7 linked regions of the Homo sapiens genome follow. The protein of the gene in region 7 interacts with the protein of the main gene of each other region in a pairwise test. Each region holds a gene or a part of one and is shown on either strand. Other genes may lie near its edges.

Evidence for each region.
Region 1: the proteins of ZNF34 (region 7) and GCM2 interact in a two-hybrid assay, tested with the Homo sapiens proteins (one large-scale study listed by BioGRID).
Region 2: the proteins of ZNF34 (region 7) and RSPH1 interact in a two-hybrid assay, tested with the Homo sapiens proteins (one large-scale study listed by BioGRID and IntAct).
Region 3: the proteins of ZNF34 (region 7) and ROR2 interact in a two-hybrid assay, tested with the Homo sapiens proteins (one large-scale study listed by BioGRID).
Region 4: the proteins of ZNF34 (region 7) and ANKHD1 interact in a two-hybrid assay, tested with the Homo sapiens proteins (one large-scale study listed by BioGRID).
Region 5: the proteins of ZNF34 (region 7) and YTHDF1 interact in a two-hybrid assay, tested with the Homo sapiens proteins (one large-scale study listed by BioGRID).
Region 6: the proteins of ZNF34 (region 7) and TCF7L2 interact in a two-hybrid assay, tested with the Homo sapiens proteins (one large-scale study listed by BioGRID).

The regions. Positions count from the first base shown.
Region 1 is NC_000006.12:10,872,723-10,875,882, reverse strand, and holds the end of GCM2 (chorion-specific transcription factor GCMb), read left to right. Parts: intron 1-949; coding exon 950-1,888; 3' UTR 1,889-2,660; downstream 2,661-3,160. UniProt on the Homo sapiens protein: Transcription factor that binds specific sequences on gene promoters and activate their transcription. Through the regulation of gene transcription, may play a role in parathyroid gland development.
Region 2 is NC_000021.9:42,482,725-42,486,224, forward strand, and holds part of RSPH1 (radial spoke head 1 homolog), read right to left. Parts: intron 3,081-3,500; coding exon 2,945-3,080; intron 1-2,944.
Region 3 is NC_000009.12:91,943,729-91,947,228, reverse strand, and holds part of ROR2 (tyrosine-protein kinase transmembrane receptor ROR2 isoform 1 precursor), read left to right. Parts: intron 1-3,500. UniProt on the Homo sapiens protein: Tyrosine-protein kinase receptor which may be involved in the early formation of the chondrocytes. It seems to be required for cartilage and growth plate development. Phosphorylates YWHAB, leading to induction of osteogenesis and bone formation.
Region 4 is NC_000005.10:140,537,833-140,540,349, forward strand, and holds the end of ANKHD1 (ankyrin repeat and KH domain-containing protein 1), read left to right. Parts: intron 1-253; coding exon 254-429; intron 430-1,086; coding exon 1,087-1,251; intron 1,252-1,526; coding exon 1,527-1,586; 3' UTR 1,587-2,017; downstream 2,018-2,517. Other genes in the region: ANKHD1-EIF4EBP3 protein, read left to right, coding at 254-429, 1,087-1,251. UniProt on the Homo sapiens protein: May play a role as a scaffolding protein that may be associated with the abnormal phenotype of leukemia cells. Isoform 2 may possess an antiapoptotic effect and protect cells during normal cell survival through its regulation of caspases.
Region 5 is NC_000020.11:63,202,632-63,206,131, forward strand, and holds part of YTHDF1 (YTH domain-containing family protein 1), read right to left. Parts: intron 1,177-3,500; coding exon 1-1,176.
Region 6 is NC_000010.11:113,142,247-113,145,746, forward strand, and holds part of TCF7L2 (transcription factor 7-like 2), read left to right. Parts: intron 1-1,676; coding exon 1,677-1,779; intron 1,780-3,500. UniProt on the Homo sapiens protein: Participates in the Wnt signaling pathway and modulates MYC expression by binding to its promoter in a sequence-specific manner. Acts as a repressor in the absence of CTNNB1, and as activator in its presence.
Region 7 is NC_000008.11:144,780,818-144,784,317, forward strand, and holds part of ZNF34 (zinc finger protein 34), read right to left. Parts: intron 1,057-3,500; exon of another isoform or gene 1,010-1,056; intron 149-1,009; exon of another isoform or gene 58-148; intron 1-57. UniProt on the Homo sapiens protein: May be involved in transcriptional regulation.

The sequences.
Region 1 (3,160 bases), on a different chromosome or scaffold from region 7:
GAGCTGATAGTGCACAGTGGTCTCAGCTCATTTTCATCCCAAGATACGCTGATCGTTATGCAAAATATGAAGGTCATACGTTAATTACAAGGGTTTGATTTCATCTGAAAATTATACGTCTGTAACAAAATATCATTAAATCAACATTTGGACAGGGTTTCTAATCCCTTCTCCTTAAAACAAAAAGCAACAATCTCTACAGGCAATGATACAGTCCTGATATGTCAGTGTGCTGAGCTGACATCCTAATATAAGGGCGATTATGCAACAGTAATAAAGATAGAAATATGTGCCTACCAACAGGAAGTTAACAGTGCACCCTTGAGAGGGTCCTTTCCATTATTTCATCCACAAGAATGGATAAAATTTCTCTGCGCAATTTAATTCAGTTTGGCTTTTCAACCAAAGCACGCCAAGCAGGCAGAGTGTTAGTGTAAGGATAACAGAAGCTGACATTTTCCAGCACTTCCTATGTGCCAGGCACTGGTCTAAGAGTTTCACACATTTAATGGTTGCAGAAACCTTATAATGAGGTTACTGTTATTAAGTTCCATTTTTAAGATGAAGGATCTGAGGCTCAGAGAGGTTAAGTGGCTTGTACAATTTGTGAGGGACAGAGTCAGGAATTGAACCCAGGCCCGTGTGGCTCCTAAGTCTCCACTATTAGGAAGACAGTATAGGTGAGAACAGGACCATCTGCCACTCAGAAGCATCCTACCTGGCTACCATGGACCTTTGTCATTCAGTCGTTGGTATTTATGTCTGAGTGAGCCCAAGCTTAGCAACCCCTGGACCACGTGCTTACATCACGTACCTGAGCAGTGCCATGTTCACAACACAGAGCCCAGCACATGGATGTCTGTTTTTACTTACTTCTAGGCTATTGTTACAGGTGAGGGTGTCCACACGATTTACATAGCGTGTGTCTATGTTTGTATCATTTTTCTAGGCAGAAGAAAATCAAGACAGCAGTGGTCATTTCAGCAACATACCTCCCTTGGAAAATCCAGAAGACTTTGATATAGTTACTGAAACCAGCTTCCCTATTCCAGGGCAGCCTTGCCCTTCCTTCCCAAAGTCTGATGTTTACAAAGCTACCTGTGACCTAGCCACCTTTCAAGGAGACAAAATGCCACCCTTCCAGAAATACTCAAGCCCAAGAATCTATTTGCCTAGGCCACCTTGCAGCTATGAATTGGCAAACCCTGGTTATACAAATTCAAGCCCATATCCCACCCTTTATAAGGATTCCACCAGTATCCCTAATGACACAGACTGGGTTCATCTGAACACACTACAATGTAATGTCAATTCATACAGCAGCTATGAGAGAAGCTTTGATTTCACCAACAAACAGCATGGCTGGAAACCAGCTCTTGGAAAACCCAGCCTTGTGGAAAGGACTAACCATGGGCAGTTTCAGGCCATGGCCACTCGCCCTTATTATAACCCAGAGCTTCCCTGCAGGTACCTCACGACTCCACCACCAGGTGCCCCTGCCCTACAAACCGTGATCACCACCACCACTAAAGTGTCCTACCAGGCCTACCAGCCCCCTGCTATGAAATACAGTGACAGTGTGCGAGAGGTGAAGAGCCTTTCGAGCTGTAACTATGCTCCTGAAGATACTGGGATGTCTGTCTATCCAGAACCCTGGGGTCCTCCGGTGACAGTCACCAGGGCAGCCTCTCCTTCAGGGCCACCTCCTATGAAAATTGCAGGAGATTGCCGGGCCATCAGACCCACTGTGGCTATTCCCCACGAGCCAGTTTCCTCTAGGACAGATGAAGCAGAGACTTGGGATGTGTGTCTGTCTGGGCTGGGCTCCGCAGTCAGTTACTCAGACAGAGTGGGTCCCTTCTTTACCTACAACAATGAGGATTTTTGAAAGACAATCCAGGGGACATAATAGCAGTGTGCATGCAGGCAGGAGGCAGGGAAATGTGAAATGGCAATGATCTCTTATTGAGTTGGGAGATTCACCTTGTGTGCAAAGAAACACAGATAGTAGTAAAAATTCTGAGTAACTGAGAAAATAATCAGTTGGAAATGATTAGATAATATGGGAAATTTCACACAGCATTTTGAAACTGGCTACAATACATAGAAGTAGTGAGGAAAGTGTGAGTCTCTCAAATGAACAAATAAGCAAACTGTAGGAGGTTAAATACTGACCTAAGTTCACTTAGCTTATTAGCAGGAGTAGAAGTCAAGGATTCTGGTTCTTATTCTAGGACTTTTCCCATTAGAGCACCTTAGGGAATTTCACATCCCTAGAGGCTGCCAAAATAGCTTCAGGAAGAAATTTTTACAATCTTATCACCTGAGTCATTTCATGAAATTTTTGTTTAGCATTTAGAACCTGTTAAACTAGCTTCAGGAAGTAATTTTGATTGTTTTATCTCCAACGTGTGTATCTACAGCTTTTCAAAAAATCTCTAGCAATGGTAAAGTTCAGTTGTTTTTAAAAGATTCAATATTAGCTTTTCATAACATGATAGTTTCCTAACCTTTTCATAACCTTTTCATAACATGATAGTTTCCATAACAGAGACAGCCTAACAATGATGAGTTGTATTTAATGGATTACCATTGTACTAAATACATTTTTTTTCTGATTAGGTTTCAGAATTATAATTAAAATGTTTTGCTGAAATACAGCTTTACGGTTCCTCTGTTATTCTTCATAAAGGTAATTGATAATGTTCAATTAAATGTAATAAGGACATTTTAAATGAAGCTAATTCTTGCCTGACTTCAAAACAGAAATAGGAAAAAAATTGTTCATATTATGACCTGGGAAACAGTTGTTATGAAACATTAAAACTTATTAAATTGGCTGAGAGAGGTGGCTCACGCCTGTAATCCCAACACTTTGGGAGACCAAGGCAGGAGGATTGCTTGAGCCCAGGAGTTTGAGACCAGCCTGGGCAACAGGGAGAGCCCTCATCTCTGGGCAACAGAGAGAGACCCCAGGGCATGGCAGTGGGCCTGTGGTTCTAACTACTTGGGAAGCTGAGGTGGGAGGATCATTTGAACCCACGAGGTCAAGGCTGCAGTCAGCCATCTTTGTGCTACTGCACTCCAGCTTGGGCAACAGAGCAAGACCCTGTCTCAAAAAAATAAATAAATAAATAAATAAATAAAACAAGTATTAAAT
Region 2 (3,500 bases), on a different chromosome or scaffold from region 7:
ACCATTCTTAAGTGTCAACACCCAGCAGAAAATACAAAATACAAATGTCACCACCACAATACCCACCTCAAATCACCAAATTGGGTAAAGTGTAACATGGATTAAGGAATGCTTTTGTGAACTCGTGGCTGATGGGATTGGAACTTATATGCCCTGTTTTGTTTACTTTTGGAAACTTTAACCACATTTTACTTTTTTATAAAAGTGATGTATTCATTTTCAGAAAACCTCAGTGAATCAGTATCCATAGGCAAACTAGCTACCGATGGAACTACTACTAATATTTTGATGCATTCTTTGTAACTTTGCTTCTAGTATACATGGTTAAATAAAAATCTGATCATAATTATACATACTAACTCATACTCTATTTTTACTGAGAAATATGGCATGAACTACTTCCCGTATTTACAAATATTCTTTCCTAATAACAGTTGCCACCTGGTACTTTATTTCATCTATGGATTGCAACCTATTTTACTCAGTTACTATTGTTGGTATTTGGGATACTGATTTTTTTTTTTTTTTTACAAAGAACGCTCCAGCAAACGTACTCTGAGTTAAAACTTTATGTACGCTTTTGATACCATCCTTAAATTCTCAGAATTTCTGGACAAAAGCATACATGTGCTTTGATTAGATGAGGCTCTAATCGTTTCATTCCCATAACTGCACTTAAGAGTCCCAGATCCTCAAACTCTTGATTTTAGGAGTGTAAAAATGGTCTATTTTTACATGTTTTTTTATATAAAACAACAGGGTCTCACAATTTTAATTCACTTCATTTCAGTTGTTAGTAAGCCTGCATTTTTTTCAAGATTTTTAGCCATTTAAATCACATTGATTGATAAAACACTTTATATATTAAATGTTGCAAATATTCTCTCCCCATTTAACAGTCATCTCTTAGATTTTCTTTACAGCATTTTCTAATCTATAAGAAGTTATTTTTATAAAGCTAAACCTATTGGTTTTTCCTTTCTATTTCTGTTTAGAAAGTTCTCTTTCCTCATTTCAAGGTTAATATTCATCTACATTTTTTTTCTATATTTCCTAGGGTACATTTAAATCTTTACTTCTTCTAGAAAGTATCTTCATCTGTGTGAAGGCAAAACTATTATTTTCCTCCCAAATAATTGTCAAGTGTTCCTAGCACTATGTCTTGACTCCTCCCATCATCCCTTTGTTAATTTGACACGCTTATTGTGTGTGAAATTATTTTATATACTGGGAACTGTCTCTGGACTTCCTAATTTGCTTCATTGGTGTGTGTGTGTGTGTGTATCCTGGTATCACACTGTTTTAATTATTGAAGTTTTGTGGTATTGATAACTTGTCCACAAGGACATGTACAGGGAATTTTCTGAGGAAGAAACACAAACCAGCAATAAACATGTGACAAGATGTTTGACCTCACTAGTAATCAGGGAAGTACACATTAAAACAATGAGATGACATTTTTTACCCATAAGATTGGAAAAGAACAAAAACAACATTAAAGACTGAGAATATCCAACATCGATGAGAATATATGATAAACAGACTCATATTCTATTGGCAAGAGTATAAACTGACACCACTTTTTAGGAAAATGGGCACTACCGATTGTGATTCTAAATGCCAATCCTCAAAGGTTTCACAATTCCATTATCTAACCTACACAATAGTCCCAAATGTGCAAAATGACAAATATGTATCTTTATGTATATTTTTGTATCCTGACACAGTATGATCCTAATTATGTAATTAAAACCCCCAAACAATAATTCTGTGTCAGATGACTGTATTAGAATGTGCTTACATGACACACAGAAATAGTGTGGAAGGATTGGGCCCAGGGTGGTGGGGCAGGATCCTAGTGTTTAAATGCTTTACAATTGGAATGTACTTGTGTATTATTTGTATAATTTAAAGTTTTTTACTAACTAGCAAAACAAAGCCTCCATTTTTACCCCGATTTTTCAGACTGGTTTAGGCTGGACAAGCTGATTGATTCTTCCAGATTCATTTTCATCAAATTCTCTTCCTCTGCAACCACCTTCCCATCTCCTCCAAAAAGACCCACAGAAAGTTTGCTGGGAATTATATAAACAATGTATGGGTTTGAGGGGAATGTGCTGTTTTGATGAAGACTAAAAGTAAAATCTGTGGTTAGGGCATGAATTATACGTAAATGAAAACTGGGTTCTAAGAGAGTCTGAAGAGACTTCGTTGTATCAGCTAAACATTCCCTCTGTCAACTTCTAACACCATCAATTTGCTCCGCAAATTCTCTCTTCAGGGAAAGTTTCTGCTCAACCCCTGATCAAAGCTACCACGATGGCCTGAGTATTAGCTTCTGAATTATTCAAGGTTTCTCTGTACAATAAGGGCAAGAGGAACCACCGAGTCTTCCAAACAGAAACGGCCCACCATGGGTGCTAGAAGCTGGCAAGCCTCCAGACGCAGGGCCAGGCCCTTGGCAGCCTTAATTCCCACCACAACTAGGAGCACGCAGGCTGGCCTGTAGCATGAGGAGGGAGCTGGGGGTCTTCCTCCCCAGGGATGTCGCACCTCCCCTTCCAGGGAAACAAAACCCAAACACCTCTATGCTCAATTGCAGGAAATAGATATTTGGTATCTGATTTACCCATGAGAAGGAATACACACAAGAGGTTCAGATGCCCTCTCGTGTTATATAACAATGCAACAGGTCCCCGCTGAAAGACAGTGGGAATTTGTACTGAGATCCAGAGAAACGGGCCAATCCCTCCCTTCCCCCAATTCTGTGCTCTGTGGGTACCAGAGGCTCAGAGAATGGCACAGCTGTCCTGTTCTCCACATTTGAATAGGCCGGACTCAGTTTTCTCTGAGTTTTTGGTATTCTCTGGTCACACATTTGCACAGGCTGCCAGAGGGGGTTATTTTGTACTTCATTGGCAAATGTCACTTCCCATGGACTTACATTTTTGTTCAAGAACTTGCCCTGGTACCTGTGGTTCAGGTGAATGAGCTCGGCCGTGCCCTCCTGCTGTCCGTTCACCCAGGTGCCAACATACTTACTGCCCGTCTCCGCGTATAAATAGGTGCCTTGCCCATGCCTGGTTAAGACAAGGGGAACATGGTATTTCGTTCCAGCACAGTGAAAAATCTCCCAGGTTTAAAACACAGACATTGACATTGAGGGAGGCCCAGGCTGTTGCAGGCTCACAAGCGATGTAGCTTCTATATCTGTGTCCAGTCAGAAGGTGCCCCTTGCTCAGTGTGCCCCAAGCACAGGACATTGCCAGAGGCACAGAGGACAGGCCAGCTGGACAGAGGCAAGCCTCCTGTGTGTCAGCTGCTTTCCCCAGGGAAGAGGCAGAGCTAGTGGGAGCTGTGGCTCAGGTCCCCCAGTGGCTCTTCTGTGCCCTCCACTCCCTGGGACTCTTGGGTGAAAGACTCACGTGCTCTGCCCCAACTGAGGTGCAGATGTCAGATACTTGAGTCTACACTTGCACAGAAAGGCATCCTTGCCTCAA
Region 3 (3,500 bases), on a different chromosome or scaffold from region 7:
ACTGACAAGTCTGCTTTATATTTTATATGTAAAAAAGCAACATGGGTTTTTTAAAATGTGCGTTTTCCAGGGGTAGTTTTTGGTGACTGCTCTGCAGATTTTTAAGGCAATGTTAAACAACATTTTTATTTTTATTGTGAAACCTTTTTTTTATTGTTTATTCAAAGTGCTGCTGTAATTGGTGTTTGTATGTCTCTCTCTTAAGTGTGGTTTGCAGTGAATCACTTGTTGCCCCTTAAACAGTTAGCCTGGATTTAACCTCCAAGAGATTAAGTCTGGCAGAGTCTGAATTTTACACTGCTCTTTTCTTTGGAAGCTCTTCTGAAATCAGTGGAATAGAAATACAGGGGTACGAACAGCTCATCTGACAGGTAGGGAAGATTAATCCCCTTTAGAAAGGTTTCAGCTGGTGGACTGGCACTCCTTTAAAATGCATTCCCTGAGAGGCCAGGATGGGAAAAGTTATTAGTGAAATGGGAACTGGATGTGAAGGACTTGAGCTCCCTAATCTGCAGGACCTGGCTAGTCTGTTGTAGTGCTGGAAATTTGTGTACTCTTTGTAATCCTTTCCCTTGGAGAGTTCTAATTATATAATTCCACATTGTAGTCAGGGAAAAGAAAGTTAACGCTACAAACTGTTACTCCTTCCCAGGGTTTATAACCATCTTCTAAAATGGTTCCTTGATGACAGGCCTTTCCTTTTGGTGTTTATCTGGTTCATTCCCTGGGAACCTGGAGGGGACACTGTGAAGGACTCCCTCCTCCTCCTCTTCCACACCCCATCAGCGTCTTGTGGTTTCCACGTGGTGAAGGGCTGGGCAGCCCAATTTTGGGTTTACCTTGAGGTGCCTCCTTGGGGGCTCCTCGGGGCGGGCTCTTCCTTGCTCTTGCCCATTGGTTGTGACTCCATACATTGTCATTAGGATATTTCCTTTTTGGGAGCCCCGTGGTGACCACCAAGTGGAGAATACCAAGCATGTAAGGTTTCAAAGTAAAGAAACCAGGGGGCTTTGTTTTGCAGTGGAAGCATTGCTAGCTAGGTCTGGATTTTTATTGGTTGCACCCCAGCTGCATGGCCAATAGCAATTTCATGAAGGGACTGTTGGGTTGAAGGGACTGGCTTTGAAAACATTACTTCTCAGTGACCCTTTGGGCTCTTAGGTTCTGCTTTGCCCCACAACACCACCATAACACTGTTGAGGCTTTCAGTGGGTAGTGTGGGCTTCTTGAGTTTTGAAAGTAAAAATCCAAGCAACAAGAGGCGCTCCAGCCCATTAATTATAGCTGCAACTGGCCGGGGTTTTGTAGCAGCCGCCTTTTTCTAGCATGTATTTATTTGGTTTTGTTGAAGAGCTTGCCAAGTTGGAAACGAGGGCGGGACAGCTTTGCTTGCGTGTGCAGTTGTCATAAAATATGTCTGGGGTGTAATCTGTTTAAAATCATATTCGTAGAGTGGCCAAAGAATTGTTGAACAGTGTTGGGAATTTTCATAAAGCTTTTACAAAATAGGGAATTTTATTGGTGTGGTTGGCACTGTTTTTGGGATTTCTGTGGGTGTTTTCTTTTTAAGTCCTATCTCTGAAAAAAGCAAAAAACTCAAAAGCTAAAGGGAAGGAAATAATTACAGAAAAATGTAGCTTAATTCGACTAAGTAGCTTGGTCCTCTAGAAATCCTTAAGTTCTAGTGGGAAGTGGTGTGTATGTCTTTAATTGTCGCTGGAATGAGCTTCAGTAAGCACTCTGTCACTTTCTAGATGTTATCAGAGGAGAATGTGGCGGCTGCTTCAAGTCCTCCTGGAGTGGGGGAGGGTTCCCCTAAATCCCAAATACTCCTAGCCTAATGGTTTCCACACCCTCCTGGAGGGATAGTTAACACAATGGGCAGTTAAAATAAGGAAATGTTTAGGCCTGAACTCCTCATTGTAGGCTTGTGCTGTGGAATATAGTAGCCACCAGGCACACACAGCTATATAAGTTAAAATTAATTAAAATTAAAAGAAATTAAAGATTCACTTCCTCCCCTTCACTGGCTTCATTTCAGGTGTCAGTAGCCACAAATTGCTATGCAAAAATGTCACTGGGATTTTAGTAGAGGTTGCATTGAATTGGTAGATGGATCTGAGTAGTATTAACTTTTTTTTTTTTTTTTGAGTTAAGGTCTTGCTCTGTCACCCAGGCTGGAGTGCAGTGGTGCAAACACGGCTCACTACCTCTGGCCTTAACCTCCTGGGCTAAGCCTCTACCTCCTGGGCTCAAGTTATCCTCCCATCTTAGCCTCTGAAGTAGCTGGAACCACAGGCACGCGCTACCGTGCCTGGCTAATTCTTTGATTTTTTTTCGTAGAGATGGAGGTCCACTTGTGTTGCCCAGGCTGGTCTTGAACTCCTGGGCTGAAGGGATTCCCCACCCCCACCCCAGTCCTGGGATCGTAGGCATGAGCCACCTCACTGGCCATCATCTTAACAGTATTGTCTTCCTGTCCATAAACACAGGATGTCTTAACATTTATTTAGACCTTTCATTTCTTTCAGCAATGTTTTTTAGTTTTTAGTGTATGAGTCTTTTGCCTCTTAAGTTAAATCTATTCCTGAGTATTTTATTCTTTTCGAGCTGTTGTAATTGGAATTGTGTTTTTTAAATTTCCTTTTCACATTGCCCACTGTTAGTGCACAGAAATGTAACATTTTTGTGTGTTGATTTTCTAACCTGCAAGCTTGTGGAATTTGCTTATTAGCTCAAATAGCATTTTTGTAGCTCTTATTCTGTATGTAAAGTCGTATCATCTACAAATAGGCATAATTTTACTTCTTCCTTTACAATTTGGATGCCTTTTATTATTTTTGGTCTTGCCTAATTGCTCAGCCTGGAACTTCCAATACAGTCATGGGCCAAATAATGATGTTTTCAGACGATGGACCACCTATATGACAGTGGTCCCATAAGATAACACTACTGTATATGACTGTGCCTTTTATATGGTTAGATACACAAATGCTTCCCATCCTGTTACAGTTGCCTACAGTATTCAGTACAGCCACATGCTGTATAGGTTTGTTGTAGCCTAGGAGAAGTAGGCTACACCACATAGCCTAGGTGTGCAGTTTGTGTGAGGGACACTCTATGATGTTCATATGATGATGAAATTGCCCAGGGACACATTTCCCAGAATGTATCGTCATCGTTGAGCAACGCATGACTGTACTGTGTTGAATAGAAGAGGTGAAAATGGGCATTCTTGTCTTGTTCCTGATCTTGGAGGAAAAGCTTTCAGTCTTTTAACATTGAGTGTGATGTTTGCTGGGCTTGTCGTATATGGCTTTTACTATGTTGAGGTGGTTTCCTTTCTATTAGTTTATTCTCATTTTTTGGTATATTTTTGACTTTTAGAACATGCTAACATTCTACAAGTTCAAAAAATAAATCACTAAGAATAGCAGGAAACTAGAATTGAATACAAAGAAGCACATAAATGCAAATGTGTTGCAAATGAGTAACATGAC
Region 4 (2,517 bases), on a different chromosome or scaffold from region 7:
TAAATAATCATTTGAGTTCTTTCAGAGAGTACTTAATCTTTTAAAAGACAGGGTAAAGTGGAGTATTCAGAGGACTTTACCTAGTTTTTCAGGAACTGGTTTTTTTTGGCTAGCAAGACTGTGATAAATACGCTTTGAGCTCTTCAGAGGAAAGATTTCAGTAACATTTGGTCATGTTTGGTAATAACAATGGTAATGTTTTGTTGTTTTATCCAAATAAATTTAAAACTTTGTTTTCAATTATTCTTTCCAGAAGGCTTATCAGGTTGGTCGCAATCTGTGATGGGGAACCATCCAATGCATCAACAATTATCAGACCCAAGCACATTCTCCCAACATCAGCCAATGGAGAGAGATGATTCTGGAATGGTAGCCCCCTCTAACATTTTTCATCAGCCTATGGCAAGTGGTTTTGTGGATTTTTCTAAAGTGAGTTGACAAACATCACTGTAACTTGATTGACACTTTGTCAGCCAATGTAGTCACATTAAGGAATACCTTGTATTGAAATAATGCTCCCTTTTGTTTCTGTGGCTTTGCTAGATCTTTTGCTTAATTTCAGGAGTGCACAGAGTTGTCCACAGTAGTTTGTCCTGAAGATGTCCCCATCCCCCGAAAACACCTGAGGGATTTGGGTTTTGCCACTTTGTGCTCTGCTACTACAGCTTTGAGGGAGGCCTCTACCCCTCTTAAAAGCTGGCCATGAGTTCACTGATGCTTTCTTGTCTGCTCTGACAGCTTTATGTCGGCAATCAATTATGTAGAGTTCCCATTTTCTTCTTAGCTCAAGCTTATTCATGAAACTAAAATATGGGAAAGTTGAGGTTATTTTTATCAAATATGAGAAATTTCCTGATGATTTCATATTGGATTTAGTTTCTTTCTCTCTCTTGTTTTTTGTTGAAAAGCTTTGCAGATGCAGATAAACATTTTGTTTTCTCAACACTGCCATACTGTACTTATAGGATCTTTTGGAGTTCTTTAAATGAGGAATATTAGAGAAGTCTAAGCTGGTATTATGGGATTTATAGTAATTTTATAATTTATAGTAATTTTAAGATTAAATCTTTTTTCCTGCTGTTTTAGGGTCTGCCAATTTCCATGTATGGAGGCACCATAATACCCTCTCATCCTCAGCTTGCTGATGTTCCAGGAGGCCCTCTGTTTAATGGACTTCACAATCCAGATCCTGCTTGGAACCCTATGATAAAAGTTATCCAAAATTCAACTGAATGCACTGATGCCCAGCAGGTAAAATGGGCTTAATGCTCTTTTGTTTTTTAGATTTGTCACATCATTCTTTTTGTTTTGTGAGAAGTATAAGTACTGAATATCAAAAGTCATAATTGACCATTTCGATCTGGATTGCTTTTTCAATATCAAGATGATGCTACTGAACACTTTATTTAATATATGTGTATTCTTCCTAGGCAGAAACAGTGAATTGCCATTGCATTTATATATTCATTTTGTAACTGTCTAAAGATTCCTAATTAGAAATTCCAATTTTTCCTCCCCCTTTTCAGATTTGGCCTGGCACGTGGGCACCTCATATTGGAAACATGCATCTCAAATATGTCAACTAAGTTAGAAGGTCTTTACTCTTTAGCCTTGTTTAAGAAACCTATGACCTTGGAAGAACCATGGGGATTTTTTTTTAATGTGCCTAAGAAATTTTCTCTGAGGCTTTAGCAATGGAAATTTGATTGCCCATTGTATAAGAACAAATTGATTTCCTATCCACCTGATTATGTTCTCTGGTTAGTTTAGCCATTTTGAACTTAAGATCATATGACCTTAGTGCTTTTGGCTAAACATACAGAATACTACTTGTATGCAGAAGAGAATTAGTTGATTACATGTTTCAACCTTTTAGGGTGATAAATACATGTATAATTGTTTACATACTTAAAAGGAAAAAGTTGAGTAAATTTCTTGTCATATAGTGGCTCTACGTAATGTAGCCTGTATTAATGTGAAATATTTACCAGAATATTCAATAAAAAGATGAACAGTCTTTAGAAGTGGGGTGTGATCCTTTCAGTGGTCATGCAGGTACCACTCAATCCACATTATATTGAACCAGATGGTTAATACTATATTTGTAACAGGCTTCTCACATTTAACACTTGAGTCCCTTCTTAGACTGCCTTAAAAAAGCACTTTTAAGACTATTTACCTATTTATTCTGTGTTAAACATTCCTTGTTCCCTTGTTGTCTTCCATAATCCTTTAACATATGAGAAAGTTTCAAGCTCTGGCAATGTGTCTTATCTGACTTTAGCTAGCAGATAGGCCACTGATAGGTTTTTTCTCTATGGATCATGAGAATGTCAATAAGAACAATTGGATTTAAATCAGATGACACTAAACAAATGTAGGGACACCCAAATTATCAACTTCAGGTTCCTTCTGTGCTTCCTGACCTTTTTTATCTGAAAGATTTGTCTGGTTATAGATATTTTAAGCTTTATATGAGTTGGGACATAAGGAGGTGACTCCTGTCATTCTGTTGTA
Region 5 (3,500 bases), on a different chromosome or scaffold from region 7:
CAGGTAGACGGGCCCCTTGCTGCTCATGCAGCGGAAGGCGCTGTCCAGGCGCTTGTTGCCGTGCTCTGTGCTACACCAGATGGAGTACTTAATGGAGCGGTGGATGTCGTCCTCAGAGTAGCTCTTGATGATGAACACACGCCCGCTTTTCAGATTCCACTCAAACTCTTTCGGGTTGTAGCTGTGAGCAGCCTTCAGTTTTTCAAGGACGGGGTGGGATTCGACGCTGGGGGCAGAATTAGGCTGGACGTTTCCAGGAGAGTTGCTATCGCTGCCAGCCCCTCCGCTCTGCCCAAACGCCGCGTTTCTGTTGCGTGGGGCAACCCAGCGGGTCTGGGGTGGCTGCTGAGGGCTCTGATACTGCGGTTGAGCCAAAGCTGGGGGCTGTGCTGGGAGAGGCTGAGCCACCTGCTGGGGCTGTGGGGCAGCCTGTGGAGAGGGTGCCTGCTGGGGGACTGGGGCCTTCGGCACAGGCCCCTTGTTATCCCAGGTGCCAATGTCCATGTTATGCTTTATGGGTGGAGGGGGCAGCCCACCCCCCATGACAGGCCCGCTCTTTGTTTTCATTTTAGGCTGTGGTTTTGCAGGCTTGCTGGCAATGGCAGCCCACGAGGTCGGCTTTGAAACTGGCATGTTCACATTTGTCCCACCGTTGCCAGAAAGGACACCAGTCAGTGCCACGCTGCTGACGACAGAGCCCACCGTCTTGACGGCGGAGGAGCTGACGTCCCCAATCTTCAGGCCAACCATGCCCTGCTCCAGGCTGTTCATCCCGGGGGCCTTGCTGAGGGTGTCGCTGTGAAAGCCTGGCTGCCCATCAACCACCGTGCCACCCAGGGAGCTCGGGGGGTAGGTGTAGCTGCTCCCATACGCGGAGCTCTGGGTCTGCTGACCTTGAGACCCACTTGTCCCCCATGCTGAGAACGCAGGGTTTTCAGGGAAAAAATTGAACCTGTGCTGATAGATGTTGTTCCCCAGGCCCCCAGGCTGCCCAAAAACAGCATCGTGCATAAAATGATGGTCTCCGTTACTGAGCTGTCCGTAGGTGGTGAGGTATGGAATCGGAGGGTCCCCTGCAGTAGACCACGGAGCCTCATTGAGGGAGTAAGGAAATCCAATGGACGGCGGGTAATAGCTGGACAGGTAGGGGTCGCTCATTGAGGGGTAACTGTTACTCTGCAAAAGCAAACGTGACAAGTTACACCACTTCTACAACACGAGATGCTGAGAATGCCAACCGCCTCTTGCTTAAGCACAGGTGGAGCAAAAACAAAACCTGCACAGCATGGGGCTACTCCTTCCAGAAAGAAAGCTGTAGTCGCCAATGTGAGAACCAAATCAAGACAGAGAAATTAATAACGAACACAAACCAGGGTGCCGTCTCAAAATACGAAGCATCATTGGCAAGGCTCTGAATTCAGGCTAAATGACGAAGCTATGCCTCTCTAGAACTGGCAAGGTAGCAGCCCCCTCTACTCTTACCTGCAAAGGAATCCAGAGGTAGAGGAGTAAACCCCTGCCTGCTGACGACAACGCTTATGACAGACACGGACGGCATCATGGGAACTGAAACAGCTTTGTAAGGCAGAGATATTTCCATTGGCAAACCAGGATGTGCAGGGCCGTGAGGCAGTTTGCTCCAGAGAACAGACCCCAAGCTCGCTGATTACTCAGCAGGCCCTGGGCGCCCACCTCTGGGCCTTGACATTCCTCCTGGGACACTCTCCCATACCTGGACCAAAGCTCTCCCAGAATCCTTCAAGGGTGCTTCAGAGGCTCCTTCCACACACCCTTCCTAGCAGATGGCCCCTGCCTCTAAGTCCAAGGGGGTTCACATTCCCATGATTTCCTGGGCACAGCGTTGGGCTCTTGCAGTAGGCCCCTGCACAGAGGGCCCTGGCTGGCTCCAGCTCCTCAGCCAAGAGAAAGCATCCGAAGTGTGGACTCTGTGCTCCGGGTGCAGAGCAGCCCTCACTCTGGATGCCAACTCACCTGGGCTTCCTTATGAAAACATGTCTGTGTAGTGACTGGAACCTCAGAGAGTGGTTTTAAAGTGACGGAACCATGAGGCAAAAAGGTCTGCTAGAGAAGGTGAGTGCCTGAGTGCCCCATCGTAGGGGTCTCTGAAGAGCTGCCCAGGGCACAAATTTAGACTGAGGGTCAGCAGTTCTGGGACGGCATCTCCTTGGAGAGACTCAACTAAGGGTCTGGTCATGATTGGGTCCCTCCAACACTGCCTTAAAATGACTTTCGTGTGAGGTGTGTCTGTATGTGTGTGCGCACACACACCTGTACACAGGCCGGTGAGACGGGGTCCAGTGTGAGGTAAGAAGGCTCCCACCTAGACGCATCGTCTGAGAGTGCCAAGATGCTATTACAGAAAACAGAGCCGGAAGTAAAACACGGGGCTCTCCAGTCTGTGACGCCCGTTTTTGGATTTTTAGTTTTCCCGCTCCCCGCCCCCCAGTCCCCCAAGTAACCAGAAGGTTCTACATAAAGAGAATATGCTCCAGACCTCATCTCACAACCTCATCCCTGCCACATTGACCTTTCATGTTGGCATCAAAGGCTACACTATGAAGGATAACAGCACCCAGTCGGGGACACCAGGTGGGAAAGTAGCTGAGGCAATGAGGGAGACTGTGGGATCCCAGACAATGAAACAGGCCTGCTTCACTGGAGGGGTGACCACAAGCAGCTCTCCCTGGGGGCAGTGCCCCAACACCAGCCAACACTGGTGGACTAATGAACCAATGACCCGGCCACCACTTCCTGCCTCCTGCTCCCATCCTAGAATACTGAGGGCTTCAGAAATCCAATTTATTTTCTAATTTTCTTCCTGTTGACTTCTCCACTTGTGAGCAGACAATTCCAGAACCCCCCCCTTTTTTTTTTGGGACGAAGTCTCACTTTGTCGCCCAGGCTGCAGTGCAGTGGCACGATCTCAGCTCACTGCAACCTCCGCCTCCCAGGTTCAAGCGATTCTCATGCCTCAGCCTCCCAAGTAGCTGGGATTACAGACACCCACCACCACACCCGGTTAATTTTTGTATTTTTAGTAGAGACAGGATTTCATCATCTTTGCCAGGCTGGTCTCGAACTCCCAACCTCAGGTGATCCACCCGCCTCGGCCTCCCAAAGTGCTGGAATTACAGGCATGAGCCACAGCGCCTGGCCCCAGAATCATCTTTTAAAATGCACTAACTGCTGTTTCCCCGTAATATAAATTTGAGATTCTGGGGGTATAAGAAGACAAGTGGGATGCTATCAGTGTTCCACAAACATGAGATTAATCTGAGCTTATTCTCCCTCAAAACAGTTTCCATGATGCTGGCTCCTTTGCTGCAGCCTTTCCCTCGGGTGCTGCCCTGGCCAACAGGCCCAGACTGGGGGGGTGAGCGAATCAGGGGGGCGGTCTGTGCACAGGACTTGCTCCTCGAGTCACTGGCCGCAGGTGCCTTCAAGGACGGCAGGCAAGGGGACAGTCCCCCCCACAGGGA
Region 6 (3,500 bases), on a different chromosome or scaffold from region 7:
CCCAAAGTGCTGGGATTACAGGCATGAGCCACCACACCCAGCCCAGCATCCCCTTTTTATCCCAGTTGTTCATTGACTGCTTTTTTCCCAAAGGGGAGAGGGAGGGAAGGTGGGGTTACTTGTAGCTCTCCTCCAACAAGATCTAAATCAGGCAGGCAGCCCCAGCAGCCTGGTGGGGTGGTCTTGGGAGAACAGGTAAGGTTAGTGTGTGTCTTTCAGGCTACCCAGTGTGTTGGTAGGATTTCCCCTTCCTAGCTCAGTAATTGGAAGGATGGGTTTAAAGTGGTGATTGCACATCACTTTGTTAGAGGGGATTGGTAGTGTTGGGGTAGGTAGGCTGCCTGGTTAGGCGGCCTTCACTGCCCCTGAACGAAGCCACACATGAGCTGGGTTTTACTGGTCTCTGAGCCCCTTTGTGCTGGTGCAGGACTGAGCCTGGCGCTTGGATGCCTGGTGGCCTCCTCCAGCCGGCCCCAGGCTCCACCAGTGAATGGCAGCGTCAACGTCTCATTTAAATAATGGTAGTACAGGGAATAGCTTTTAAATGGTTATCGTAAAACATATGATTAACGTCTGTGGACTGTTTACTTTTCCTCTGCGAACATTCTTTCAAGTGTGCAAATGGCTCGATGTAGGGTCCAAGCCCAGCTAATCTGTTTGGTTTTTGTAATAGAGAGAAAGCAATGTCTGCATGAAAATGTCACCCAGGGAGACTTAATTTACAGATTAAAAGCTTCCTGAATGAATTTTTTAAAAAATGAAGTCGTTTTCGTCCACGAACATGCAGCCCGTTCCCTCCATTACTCTGTTTTAATTCTGTGGTATTGTGCCTTTTGCCTCCCACTTCAATGGCATACATCAATTCCTCTCTGTCAGAGTGGACTACAGGATGTGCTCCTGTGGAACTGGCAGATGTGCGGTGGCACGTACTTGCAGAATCCGCTCATGTGTGCCTTGTGAAGCTCTTAGCCCCTGCGACGCACGCGGTGCCCATTCAGCAGGTGGGCTTAATCCCCACAGACGACTCTGTCCTCTAGCGGATGAAGTTCCAGAATGGAGTACACAAGCCTCCAACACCTCCTTGTCTGTTCAGCTCTGACTCTGCCTTAGATAAGATGCCAGATGGCATTTGATCAGTTTCTCCAGCTCATCCAAATAGAGGCAGAGACATTTTAGAGGAGTCACCATTTTTGAAAAAAGGCAAGGGTAGTAACTTTTCAAATGCCACAGCTCAAAAAGTGTGTTAGAAATCAGAGGAGTAGCTCTTGTGCAGGTAAGGCATGAAACTCCGCAGGGTGAAGGGCCAGAGTTGTAAGAGCAACAGGGATTACCATTGCTTCATTCTCCACCAGGTGCTGAGCCTTTTTGATGTTGTTTCTTTTAAACTTGAAACAATCACACCAGTCACATGAGGCACAAATACCCAAGATGGCATATCTTGAGTCTACTCAGTATACCAGTCCATTTAGAAGGAGATAAACTAATTTTTCAAACTGAGGCTGAGGGAAAATGAGATGAAACCTACCAACAACTCAGGATTTATAATCATGAATGAACCTTGTGCTAGGATTCCAGAAGAGATGCGTCTCTTCCTCCTTTCCCTGTTCCCATCCCCTAATGGATTGCTCTTTCCTTCTCTCCCTCCTTTGTACCTAAAATGCTGCTTCTTCCCTCAGGAATCCCACGGCCTCCGCACCCTCCAGATATATCCCCGTATTACCCACTATCGCCTGGCACCGTAGGACAAATCCCCCATCCGCTAGGATGGTTAGTACCACAGTAAGGAGTTCCATTTTTTAATTTCCTTTTTGTTTCTTACATGGGCATGTTTATTATTTATTCTGTGTGTGTGTCTGTGTGTGTGTGTGTGTGTGTGTGTGTGTGTGTGTGTATGTGTGTGTGTTAGAAGCCAGGGTTGGGGAGGGGGCTGCGGGAGGGCACAGAAAAGGTGTTGCTGAGGTGTCCTGTGGGAATACAGGCAAATCCACAGCCATTCAGGTGGCTTATGTTACTGGCACTTAGCATTCCGCGACCATGGTCCCCAGAGGCTCTGTGGACAGAGGTGCCCTGCAGTTCCTTTGGGAATTGCAGAAGACTACTGGAACTTCCACCCAATGAAGCTGGTCATGACCCTTCTGCTGTTGGCTGCCCAAACTGCAGTCATGTCATTGGGTTGAGGCTGTCGAGTCCTCCATTTTAGGTGTTACATATTTTGGGGCACAGAAGCAGGAACAAGAACGGCCTTGTTTTGAAATCCAGGGTTGGGATTAGGGCATGTTCTTGTATGATTCCAGGACCCCCCACCTCATCCTGAACATTACTCCCAAGGTTGACAACAACAGTGGAAAGTTTTGTCTGTTGAGAAGCTCCATGGGACTGAATCAGCATCTCTCTGAGAGTCTTTGCACGTTGAATGTTTTACCTAACTGTGAACGGTGGGAATGGGGCATTTGGAACCGTCACTGCAGCATGTGGGGCCTTCGTAAGCATCAATCCTAGCTCCTGGCAGTGCCCAGATTATTTGACTAACTTTTGCAACTTAAAAAAACTGTGTTTTAAATTCAGAGTAGAAAGGCCTTTGATGCATTAGCATACTGTGGCAGGTTGTGTGTATGTATATTTTTGCATGAGCATGTGTGTAATATGTGTTTCGTGATTGTTTCTGTGGATGTATTTCTCCTTACCAGTGATCTGTACTCTGAACAACACAGGACAATACATTGAATGCTAAAAGGAATAAATCCTGGTAAAACTCAGGTTTGAGTCTTAGGGAAGATGGCCTTTCAAAGCCTTAAGGAAGATAAAATTTTGGAGTGGCTTACCCCACAATTCTACCCGTATTTCTCTAGTTAGATAGATTCTATGCTGTTTTTTTTTTTTTTAATAAAAAACAGATTGCATTATGTAGTAGCTGTACCAAATACCAACCCTGGGTATAGTTTCTGTTTCTCTGTCTCTTCTTATTTTTATTGGGACGGTAGACATGAACATGAGCTTGTGACCCATTTCTTCTAAATAGATGGGGCCAACCCTCGAATAGTTCTCAGTGATCATTTGCCCCATTCGGCTGATGGGGAGATATTTGAAGGCTAGATAAAAAGGAATAGCCAACTCAGACAACCCTCTGTCAGAAAAAGTTGTGTGTCTTTCATGAGGATGCTATTTTGCATGTTGCTGTATTTTTTAATTATTGTAATGAGGTGTGATTGTCTATTGGTTACCCACAATTCTTCTTGGGGACTCTCCCCCCGGTAACTCTTGTCAACACTTGTTAATTTGACAAAAGGCTACAAATTAAGCTCTGTTAATTTAATGTTTTCTCACCGAGATCTAAATACCGAAAGAGGCCCAAAGCGCAACTGAAGTCCTTTGATTCACTGTACTTTATTTTGGTATAAATTTACATTCATTATTGTTTTCCTTTGGATGTGTAGCCCTCAATTAGTGTGATGGCTCCATTAAAGCAAGCGAGACTTCGCCTTTAATTATTACAACAAAAC
Region 7 (3,500 bases):
ATCACTAATAGGAATAAAAAAAACACTGCATATTACTGGCCAGGCGTGGTTGCTCACCCCTGAAATCCCAACACTTCGGGTGGCTGAGGCGGGTGGATGGCGAGGTCAGGAGATCGAGACCATCCTGGCTGACGGTGAAACCCTGTCTCTACCGAAAATACAAAAAAAATTAGCCGGGCGTGGTGGCGGGGGCCTATAGTCCCAGCTACTTGGGAGGCTGAGGCAGGAGAATGGTGTGAACCGGGAGGCAGAGCTTGCAGTGAGCTGAGATCGCACCACTGCACTCCAGCCTGGGCGACAGAGCGAGACTCCATCTCAAATAAATAAATAAATAAATAAATAAATAAAAATAAAAATAAAACACTGCATATTACTAAAAGCCCACCAAAAAGCTGTAATAATTACAAACAGTATGGATCTACCAAACAGGAACTGGTAAATCCTCCTCTGGAGTGAGTTTTTTTTTTTTTAGACGGAGTCTTACTCTGTCGCCCAGGCTAGAGTACAGTGGCGCGATCTTGGCTCACTGCAAGCTCTGCCTCCCGGGTTCACGCCATTCTCCTGCCTCAGCCTCCCAAGTAGCTGGGACCACAGGTGCGTTTAATTTTTTTTGTATTTTTAGTAGAGACGGAGTTTCACCGTGCTGGCCAGGATGGTCTTGATCTCCTGACCTTGTGATCTGCCCGCCTTGGCCTCCCAAAGTGCTGGGATTACAGGCAGGAGCCACCATGACCAGTCGAGATTTTTAACATACTTCCCTCAGAAACAAGTGGGTCAAGTAAACAATCTCATGCTTAAAACATAGAGAACACACATTGTTTTCAACATACTGAACATTACCAAAAAAAACAAAGCAACAGAGAAAGTTTCAACAAATCCCAAAAGAATATATCATTTGGCAAAACAATTTCTATCCATATTGTTGTTATATTAGAAATATATGAAAAGTAACCCTCTCCCCAGAGACATATAGAAATGGAAACTAAAGTGGAAATAGAACCAAGCCTACCTAAAGAAAATTGTGCATCCTTAATAGACTCATTTTAACAGGAAAGCCTGAAATAAATAAGTATTCAGCAAGAAATCAAATGCAGGCTGTGGCTCACGTCTATAATCCCAGCACTTTGGGAGGCCGAGGCGGGTGGATCACTTGAGGTCAGGAGTTCGAGACCAGCCTGGCCAACATGGTGAAACCCCATCTCTCCTAAAAAATACACAACTTGGGGCTGGGCGCAGTGGCTCACGCCTGTAATCCCAGCACTTTGGGAGGCTGAGGCGGGTGGATCACGAGGTCAAGAGATCAAGACCATCCTGGCCAACTTGGTGAAACCCCGTCTCTACTAAAAATATAAAAATTAGCTGGGCATGGTGGTGGGCACCTGTAATCCCAGCTACTCGGGAGGCTGAGGCAGGAGAATCACTGGAAACTGGGAGGCAGAGGTTACAGTGAGCCGAGATCGCACCACTGCACTCCAGCCTGGCCACAGAGTGAGACTCCGACACAAAACAAAACAAAACAAAACTTAGCCGGGCATGGTGGCGTGAACCTGTAATCCCAGTAACTTGGGAGACTGGGGCAGGAGGATCACTTGAATTCGGGAGGTGGAGGTTGCAGTGAGTTGAGATTACATCACTGCACATTCCAGTCTGGGCGACAGAGTGAGACTCTGTCCAAAAACAAAAAACAAAAAACAAAAGAAAAGAAATCAGATACAGAATAAGAAAGTAACTCAAGGAGGGCCGGGCACGGTGGCTCACGGCTGTAATCCCAGCACTTTGGGAGGCCAGGGCAGGTGGATCTCTTGAGCCCAGGAGTTCAAGACCAGCCTGTGCAACATGGCAAAACCCCTCTCTACAAAAAATACAAAAATTAGCCAGGCATGGTGGCATGTGCCTGTAGTCCCAGCTACTTGGGAGGCTGAGGTGGGAGGATCGCTTGAGCCCAGGAGGCAGAAGCTGCAGTGAATCAAGATCGTACCACTGCACTCCAGCTGGGGTGACAGAGACAGAACCAAAGCCTATCTCAAAAAAAAAAAAAAAAAAAAAAAAAAAAAAAAAGAAAAGAAAATAGATGGAAAAGTAGAAAAGGAAATGTTATCAGGAACAAAAAAGGAAAGAGTGTATATTTAGGGCAATTTGAATCTATGCTCCCAGGTTAAAATAAAACCATTTTAAATAGATTAAAAAAAAAGAGCAAAAGGCCAGGTGTGGTTGGCTCATGCCTGTAATCCCCATACTTTGGGAGGCCAAGGCGGGAAGATGGCTTGAACCCAGGAGTTCAAGCTCAGCCTGTCTCTACAAAAAATAAAAAAAATTAGCACGGATTGGTGGCACATGCCTGTAGTCCCAGCTACTTGGGAGGCTGAGGTGGGAGGATCACTTGACCCTGGGAAGCATAGCAGTAGTTCTCAGAGTGTGGCTCAGGGACCCTGGGGTTCCATGCATTCAAGTTTGTGTTCGCAACACTAAGAGGACACATTAGAAGCACTTGTAGTAGATTCAGTGACAAGAGAGGGACGTTCCCTCACCCTGCTGCTATTCAACATCCTAGCCAAAGCAGTAAGTTACAGAAAAAAGAAATATAAGCTACAAGGATCAGAAGAAAAAAGACAAAATCATCATTCTTTGAGAATGATAAAAATAATCTACATAGAAAATCCAAGAGTTATCAATCCACTGTTGGAATGACAGGAGTTCCACAGCATTGCCATATACAAGGTCAACAGAGAATAATTAATACCACTTCTATTTGTCAGCAATCAGCAACCGAAAACTGACCATTCACAATAGCTACAAAAACTATACAGTACATTAAGTCTTAAAAAAAGATATGTATGTAATGAACAACATTATAAAACTTTATTGAAGTACCTTAGAAAGGTCTATGGAGAAACAGACAATGTTTCTAAATAGGAGGGCTCAATAACATAAAGATATCAATTATCCCCAAGTTAAATTTATTTTGTGCAATTATAATAAACATTTCAACAGGACATGATATCTGACCAAAATGACTCCAAATATCACATGAAATAGTAACGATCTAAGATTAGCCAAGGCAGTGTGGCCAGGCGCAGTGGCTCACGCCTATAATCCCAGCACTTTGGGAGGCCAAGGCGGGAGGATCACGAGGTCAGATCGAGACCATCCTGGCTAACATGGTGAAACCCCATCTCTACTAACAATATAAAATTAGCCCGGCCATGGTGGCAGGCGCCTGTAGTCCCAGCTACTCGGGAGGCTGAGGCAGGAGAATGGCGCGAACCCGGGAGGCGGAGGTTACAGTGAGCCGAGATCACACCACTGCACTCCATCGTGGGTGACAGAGCGAGACTACGTCTCCAGAAAAAAAAAAAAAAAGATTAGCTAAGGCAATACCAAAAAAACAACCAAAGGAGGCAAGGGTGTGCCCTACTAGATATCAAGACTTAGGCTATGGTAATGGAAAGTGAAGTTTAAGTATAGGAAAAAAGATAATGGAAGACATCTATGGATATGTT